2 linked regions of the Homo sapiens genome follow. Changing the gene in region 2 together with the main gene of any one other region gives a genetic interaction. Each region holds a gene or a part of one and is shown on either strand. Other genes may lie near its edges. The genes, in order: NTRK1 and SLC5A5.

Region 1 (3,500 bases), on a different chromosome or scaffold from region 2:
GAGAAAGCAGTCAGAGGGAGGAGAGAAAGCAGTCAGAGGGAGGAGGAAAGCAGTGAGTCCCCTGCCTACTCTGGGACTCATTCCTTCATGGGACGAGGGGGGATGGAGGTGGGCTGCTGGGCCTCAAGGAAGAAGATGCATGTGACCCTTTTCCAGCTGGGCCAGGATGCCCTGCTGCATGGCTGTCTCCTCAGCCAGCCGACAAGGACGGAATAGCTCAGGAGTTCAGGAGTCCTGGCTTGGGGAGAGGGTAAGGAGGCCAGAACAGCGGGACACCAGGACTCCAGACTCCTTTCTGTCCCGAACCAGGCACTCCAATTTCTGGGGTCAGGGCTATAGCAGGAAGTTGGCTGTAACCCAGGAGGAGCCCAGGAGTGGGGGCAGGGTTCAGGATGGCCCTCGCACCAGGGATGGGGTCCTCGGGGTTGAACTCGAAAGGGTTGTCCATGAAGGCAGCCATGATGGAGGCGGAGGCCTGGCCGAAGGGGTTGGCAGCCAGCAGCGTGTAGTTGCCGTTGTTGACGTGGGTGGGCTGGTTGAGGCGCAGACACCCGTGCCGCACGGTCTCATTGGCTGCCGGCTCCAGGAACTCAGTGAAGATGAAGCTGGTCTCATTGAGCACGGAGCCATTGAAGAGCCAGCGCAGAGACGGTGCCGGCTGCCCATCCACAGAGAAGGGGATGCACCAGTGGTGCATCTCCACCGCCGTGTGCAGCTGCACACTGGCCGGGACTGTGGGCCAGAAAGAGCAACAGCAGGAGGTCAGGGCGCAGCTGGAGGGAGCCTGGCACACACCCGACAAGTCCACGGGCAAAGCGAGTAGAACCCGAAATCAAAGGGCAGGCCTGGGAGAAACAGGTCAGCAGGCCCTGGGAAATTCACCAAGGAGAGATGTTTTGAAGAAAGTTGACAATACATTTTAAATAAATCAGGCAGCAGGCATATAAAATTTAGAGGCTTAAAGAACATAAGTGGTGGGCCATAAATAAGTCACAGCCCCACAGGAGTGGGGTATCAGCTTATGACAATTAAACATGGAGTCTTTGGGATAAGGAATCTAGAAGAAGTCAGTGTAACCAAGCTGAAGAAGATGGGTCAGGGGCCCTAACAATCAAACCAGCCAAAAATATATACAGTTAAATTTTTGGGGAAAAGCCAGGCACAGTGACTTGCTCCTGTAATCCCAGCTACTCAGGGGGCTGAGGTGGGAGGATCGCTTGAGGCCAGGAGTTCAAGGCTGCAGTGAGTTATGATCCCAAAGCATTCCAGCCTGGGCAACAGGCTGAGACCCCATCTCTTCAAACACACACACACACACACACACACACACACACACACACACACACTCTTTTTGAAAAAAGATATGCGTTTGAAATAGACCCAATCTGGGCCAGGCGCGGTGGCTCACGCCTGTAATTCCAATACTTTGGGAGGCCGAGGCGGGCGGATCACGAGGTCAGGAGATCGAGACCATCCTGGCTAACACGGTGAAACCCCGTCTCCACTAAAAAAATACAAAAAATTAGCTGGGCGTGGTGGAGGGCGCCTGTAGTCCCAGATACTCAGGAGGCTGAAGCAGGAGAATGACGTGAACCTGGGAGGCGGAGCTTGAAGTGAGCCGAGAGCGCGCCACTGCACTCCAGCCTGGGTGACAGAGCGAGACTCCATCTCAAAAAAAAAAAAAAGAAATAGACCCAATCTGGTAAAAGTAAAAGCCCCTCAATGATAGAAAAAAAGTGTATGTATGCATAAATATATGTATATATATATATAATATAGCATTCATACATAGGAATACTATTTAGCAATGAATTGCATGAGCTACATATAGCAACTCCCATTAACATGAATGAATCTTATAAATATAATGTTGAATGAAAGAAACCAGATACAAAATAATACACGCAGTATGATTCCATTTATATAATGTACAAGAACAGGCAAAACTAAATGATACCGATAGGAAAGCATATTTGAGAAAAATTATTTTTAAAAGCAAGGAAATGGTTATCCTGACAAAAGTCAACATGAGATGGGAGAGTGGGATGGGATTGCGAACAGGGAGAGGTGTTGGGTGGTGGGGGATCTTCCGTGATGCTGGTAAGAGTAATTATTGTTTAAAATATATATATTTTTTGCACATTTCTATGTATATTTCACAATAAAAGAAGAAAACTGATGTAAAGTAGAATATTTAAGATAATTTGTTGGCTGATCTAGAGAAATTAGGCAGCGAGCGTAAAGAGGAACTCAGGAGGAGAATTTCCTCTTTTGAAACTAGGATGCGGGGAGAAGGACCCGATGAGGGACGGGCATGAAAAAATACTTCGGAGCAGTGGGAACAGCCGGGCATCTGGCGTTGAGGGCCTCAGGTAGCAAGGCTCGGGCAGGGGGCCAGAAAGAAATCCATCTCCATCCCTCTGGCCTTGACAAGACCCCAGGACTTCCCCCAAAGGATCAGGTTTTCATGGGAATCTGGAAACAGCTGGGAGGGAGCAGCTGTGGAGACACACATCCCACCCTTTCTTCCAGCCCCCCACCCTACATCCTCTTTTGAGGGAAGAAGAGATGAGTAGGGGGTGGGTGCCGGAGCTGCCACTGAGACTCACAGGAGACGTTGACCTGAACAGAGACCTCTGCCCGGCCCACATCGTTCTCTGCCCAGCACGTCACGTTCTTCCTGTTGAGGTCACTGGTGACATTGGCCAGGGTCAGCCCCAGGGATGGCAGACCCCCAGATTTCTAGATCAGGAAAGAGAGGGGGGAATAAGAAGGAGCTTTAGCCAGCTTGGGGCTGGGGCTGAAGTCTTTGGAGAGCCCCTCTGGCTCCAGATGGAAAGGAGAGGAGGGCTGGGAGGGAAGAGAAGGGAGAGAGGGGTGGGAGAGAATGTAGCAGATAATGGCCTTCCTCCTTTAGGTTTGTTCGTTGACTATCTCCTGGATCACATTTTTTTTTTATTTTATGTTTTATTTTTGTAGCGACGGGGTCTTACTGTCCTGCCCAGGCTGGTCTTGAACAGGGCCTCAAGCAATCCTCTCACCTCGGCCTCCCAAAGTATTGGGATTACAGGCGTGAGCCACTGCGCCCAGCCTGGATCACGTATTTAATTATCTGAAAAATCTAAAATCTAACCAGTAGCCTCAAAATAGGCACAAAATATCCCAAACTGAAACTAAAACCAGCCATCTGAGCAGCTAAACAGATGTCACGCATCCCAAGTACCAAATTTGTACACAGCTCGTTGGAGACCCCACTAGGACCTCACTGCCTATTCATTCCTGTTTTACACACAGTTCTAACAAACTGAGTCTCAGCCCAAGGAAGATCAGAAACAAAGAGATGGTGCAAATAGCACAGCAGCAGTTAGAAACAACAGCAGCGGCATCGCCTCCTGCAGCAGATGAGGACCATGGGTGAGGTTAGACAGGCAAAGTGACTTGATTCTGAATCATCGTCAGGATTGAATCAGATCAAGTTTCTCTTCCTAGGAAACCGTGGA
Region 2 (4,019 bases):
AGTGCTGTAGTGGATGAGGATGGCACGGTCAACGGGGAGGGACTGCCCTGGCCTCCCACCCAGGTCTCCCTGAAACTCACAGAGCCCCTTGGAGATAATCACGAGTTTCCTGGGTGCCAGGCTCCGCAGCCGAGGTTTGATGAGGTCTTCTACAGTGACTGCAGCCATAGCATTGATGCTGGTGGATGCTGTGCTGTGTGAGGAAGGCAGCGGGGGGTCCTCAGGCCATATGGAGAGACCGTCCACACCATCTGGCCTGCCAGACCTCACCCAGCCTGAGGGCAACGGTGGGGGTAACCCAGTCCTGCAAAGGTGAAGGAGATATTTGCCCCTCCCCTCCCCGAAGACCTGAGACATCCCTACAGGAGCAAGGACACCTGTGACCAAGGGCAGGTGGGACAGACAGGTGGGTTCTGGTTCCAGAGGGACTGCAGTCACATGTGGGAGATTTGCAAAAGGGACAGTGAGGGCATGTGACCAGAAGTCCCGGAAGAGTGGAAACCACCTGAGTGTGTGGCCTTGGAAGGCAGAAGCAGGGGACTGCTTGGTCATGGCTGTGCCCCAGGGTTTAGAACAACAGTACCTGGGCTGAGCACGTTGGCTCATGCCTGCAATCTCAGCACTTTGCGAGGCCAAAGCATGCAGATCACCTGAGGTCAGGAGTTCAAGACCAGCCTGGCCAACATGGCGAAACCCCGTCTCTACTAAAAATACAAAAATTAGCCGGCTGTGGTGGCGTGGACCTGTAATCCCAGCTACTTGGGAGGCTGAGGCAGGAGAATTGCTTGAACCCAGGAGGTGGAGGTTGCAGTGAGCCGAGATGGCACCACTGCACTCCAGCCTGGGTGACAGAGCAAGACTCCATCCGGAAAAAAAACAAAAAAAAACAGTACCTGCCACATAGTAGATGTTCAACAAATATTTGTCTGGGGAGGAAGGAAGGAAAGAAGGAAGAAGAAGAGAGGAGAGTCAGGCGTGGCCCTGACAGGTGATAAGAAGGTAAACCCTTGCAGTTGGGGTCCCTGTGCCCAGGGCATGCTCTCTGCCAGCGCCTACCTGAGCTGTCTTCTAGGGATCAAGCAGGAACTGGGACTGATGGACAGGTCCAGAACATTCCATGCCCCAGAGGGATGGCAGGCCAGGATAAGGAGGCTCCCAGGGGCTGAAATAATGCTCCATGAACAAGCAGGGGTGCTCACCTGAGGGTGCCACTGTAAGCACAGGCCAGGAAAAGCCCGGGGACTCCAGGCAGATCTTCGAAGATGTCCAGCACCAGCAGAGGCATGTACTGGGGAGAACTGGGGGTCAGCCTCCCAGACAGCTGCACCCCGAGGACCGGGGCATCTATCTGTCCTGATGCTGCACGTCCCCAGCACCCAAGACGGACAGGGCTCAGAGTCGGCATTTAATATGCATTTAGTTTTTGTCTGTGGTTTTGTTTTGTTTTGTTTTGTTTTGAGAAAAGATCTTGCTCTGTTGCCCAGGCGGGAGTGCAGTCCCATGAATGTGGCTCACTGCAGCCTAGAACTCCTGGGCTCAAGCGATCTTCCTGCTTCAGTCCCCCAGTAGCTGAGACCACAGGTGTGCGCCACCATGCCTGGCTAATTTTTTTAAATTTTTGTGTAAAGATAGGGGTCTGGCCGGGCAGGGTGACTCACGCGTGTAATCCCAACACTTCGGGAGGCCGAGGCGGGTGGATCACTTGAGCTCAGAAGTTCAAGACCAGCCTGGCCAACATGGTGAAACCTCATCTCTACCCAAAATACATAAATTAGCTGGGTGTGGTGGTTGGCACCTGGAGTCCCAGCTACTTGGGAGGCTGAGGCAGAGGAATTGCCTGAATCTGAGAGGTAGAGGTTGCAGCGAGCGGAGATCGCGCCGTTGCACTCCAGCCTGCACAACAGAGCCAAACTCTGTCTCAAAAAAAAAAAAAAAGAAAGAAAAGAAAGAAAGGCCGGGCACAGTGGCTCATGCCTGTAATCCCAGCACATTCAGAGGCTGAGGCAGGTGGATCACCTGAGGTCAGGAGTTTGAGACCAGCCTGGCCAACATGGCAAAACCCCACCCCTACAAAAAATACAAAAAAATTAGCTGGGCATGGTGGCGCATGCCTGTCATCCCAGCTACTCGGGGGCTGAGGCAAGAGAATGGCTTGATCCTGGGAGCCAGAGGTTGCAGTGAGCTGAGGTTGCGCCACTGCACTCCAGCCTGGGCAACAGAGTGAGACTCTGGCTCAAAAAAAAAAAAATTGTGTAAAGATGGGGTCTCCCTATGTTCCTCAGGCTATAATGTGCATTTGTTGATCAACTGCATGAACCTGAGAATTGTCCCTGAGCCCCACTGTGTTCTGAGCCCTGGGATCCCTGTGAAGCAGGGACCCGTGTCATCCTCATTTTATTGATGAAGACTGTGAGGCAGAGAGTACAGTCCCTCCCTGAAGTTACACAGTCCAGCAGTCCCGGATCTGACCTCCAGGGAGGACTGCAGATGGGGTGGTCCCCCGTACCCTCTGCTAACTCTGAACCCCATGGTCAGAACTCTACTTGGGGTGTGACCTAGGCATGGGTCCTGGCACCGCCCCCCGACTTGCCCATTGACCTCAGGCAGTGACTTCCCCCCGAGCCTCAATTTCCTCATCTGTAAAGTTGGAGCCGTGACTGCCCTGCCTTTCTCAGAAGAAAGATTAGATGGAGAACTAACTGCTGGTGAAGGGAACAGCATGAGGCACAGAGTGGACGCTTGGGACATGGGAGACCAGAGCTGTCATTATTATTATCACCAACATGATTAGTTCCCGCTGGATTACAGTTTTTGTTTTTGTTTTTGTGGGTTTGTTTTGTTTTGTTTTTATTTTTGTTTGAGACGGAGTTTCTCTCTTGTTGCCCAGGCTGGAGTGCAATGGCGCCATCTCAGCTCACCGCAACCTCCGCCTCCCAGGTTTAAGCTATTCTCCTGCCTCAGCCTCCCGAGTAGCTGGGATTACAGGCATGCACCACCACACCCGGCTAATTTTGTATTTTTCAGTAGGGACGGGGTTTTTCCATGTTGGTCAGGATGGTCTTCAACTCATGACCTCAGGTGATACCCCTGCCTCAGCCTCCAAAAGTGCTGAGATTATAGGCGTAAGCCACCGCGCCCAGCCTTGTTTTGGTTTTTTTTTTTTGTTTTTTTTTTTTTTGAGATGGAGTCTCTCTCTGTCACCCAGGCTGGAGTGCAATGGCGCGATCTCTGCTCACTGCAACCTCCACCTCCCGGGTTCAAGCTATTCTCCTGCCTCAGCCTCCCGAGTAGCTGGGATTACAGGCATGCATCACCAGGCCTAGGTAATTTTTGTATTTTTAGTGGAGGGGGGTTTCACCATGTTGGCCAGGTTGGTTTCGAACTTCTAACCTCAAGTGATCTGCCTGTCTCGGCCTCCAAAAGTGCTGGGATTACAGGCGTGAGCCAACATGCCCGGCCTGGGTCATGGTTTCATCTCCTCCTGAGCATCTCCCAGGGGATCTTTGGAACTCTCTGGAACTCTAGATCTGAATGTGGCCCTTGTCTGCTCACACCTACTGAGGGCGGTCCATTGCCTCCCAGACTCACCTTTCCCATTCCTTGCAGATCCTCCTCTGAACTCTTTATTTTATTTTATTTTATTTTTTTGAGACAGAGTCTCACTCTGTCATCCAAGGTGGAGTGTAGTGGTGCGATCTCCCTTCATCGCAACCTCCGCCTCCCGGGTTCAAGAGATTCTCCTGCCTCAGCCTCCTGAGTAGCCGGGACTACAGGTGCGTGCCACCACGTCCAGCTAATTTTTATATTTTTAGTAGAGACAGGGTTTCACCATGTTAGCCAGACTGGTCTCAAACTCCTGACCTCAGGTGATCCACCCGCCTCAGCCTCCCAAAGTGCTGGGATACAGGCATGAGCCGCCGCACCTGGCCTCCTCTCAGCTCTTTCCTACTTCTTGGCCTTTGCACAGGCCATTCCCTCTGCTAGGAATGCTCTTCGACCTCAATCCCACCAAGCTAGTG

The links.
Region 1: changes in SLC5A5 (region 2) and NTRK1 together harm fitness less than expected from each alone (positive genetic interaction), as found in Homo sapiens cells (one large-scale study listed by BioGRID).

What each region holds. Positions count from the first base shown.
Region 1 is NC_000001.11:156,870,865-156,874,364, reverse strand, and holds part of NTRK1 (high affinity nerve growth factor receptor isoform 2 precursor), read right to left. Parts: intron 2,743-3,500; coding exon 2,610-2,742; intron 733-2,609; coding exon 406-732; intron 1-405. UniProt on the Homo sapiens protein: Receptor tyrosine kinase involved in the development and the maturation of the central and peripheral nervous systems through regulation of proliferation, differentiation and survival of sympathetic and nervous neurons.
Region 2 is NC_000019.10:17,878,134-17,882,152, reverse strand, and holds part of SLC5A5 (sodium/iodide cotransporter), read right to left. Parts: intron 1,322-4,019; coding exon of another isoform or gene 1,289-1,321; coding exon 1,200-1,288; intron 194-1,199; coding exon 81-193; intron 5-80; coding exon 1-4. UniProt on the Homo sapiens protein: Sodium:iodide symporter that mediates the transport of iodide into the thyroid gland. Can also mediate the transport of chlorate, thiocynate, nitrate and selenocynate.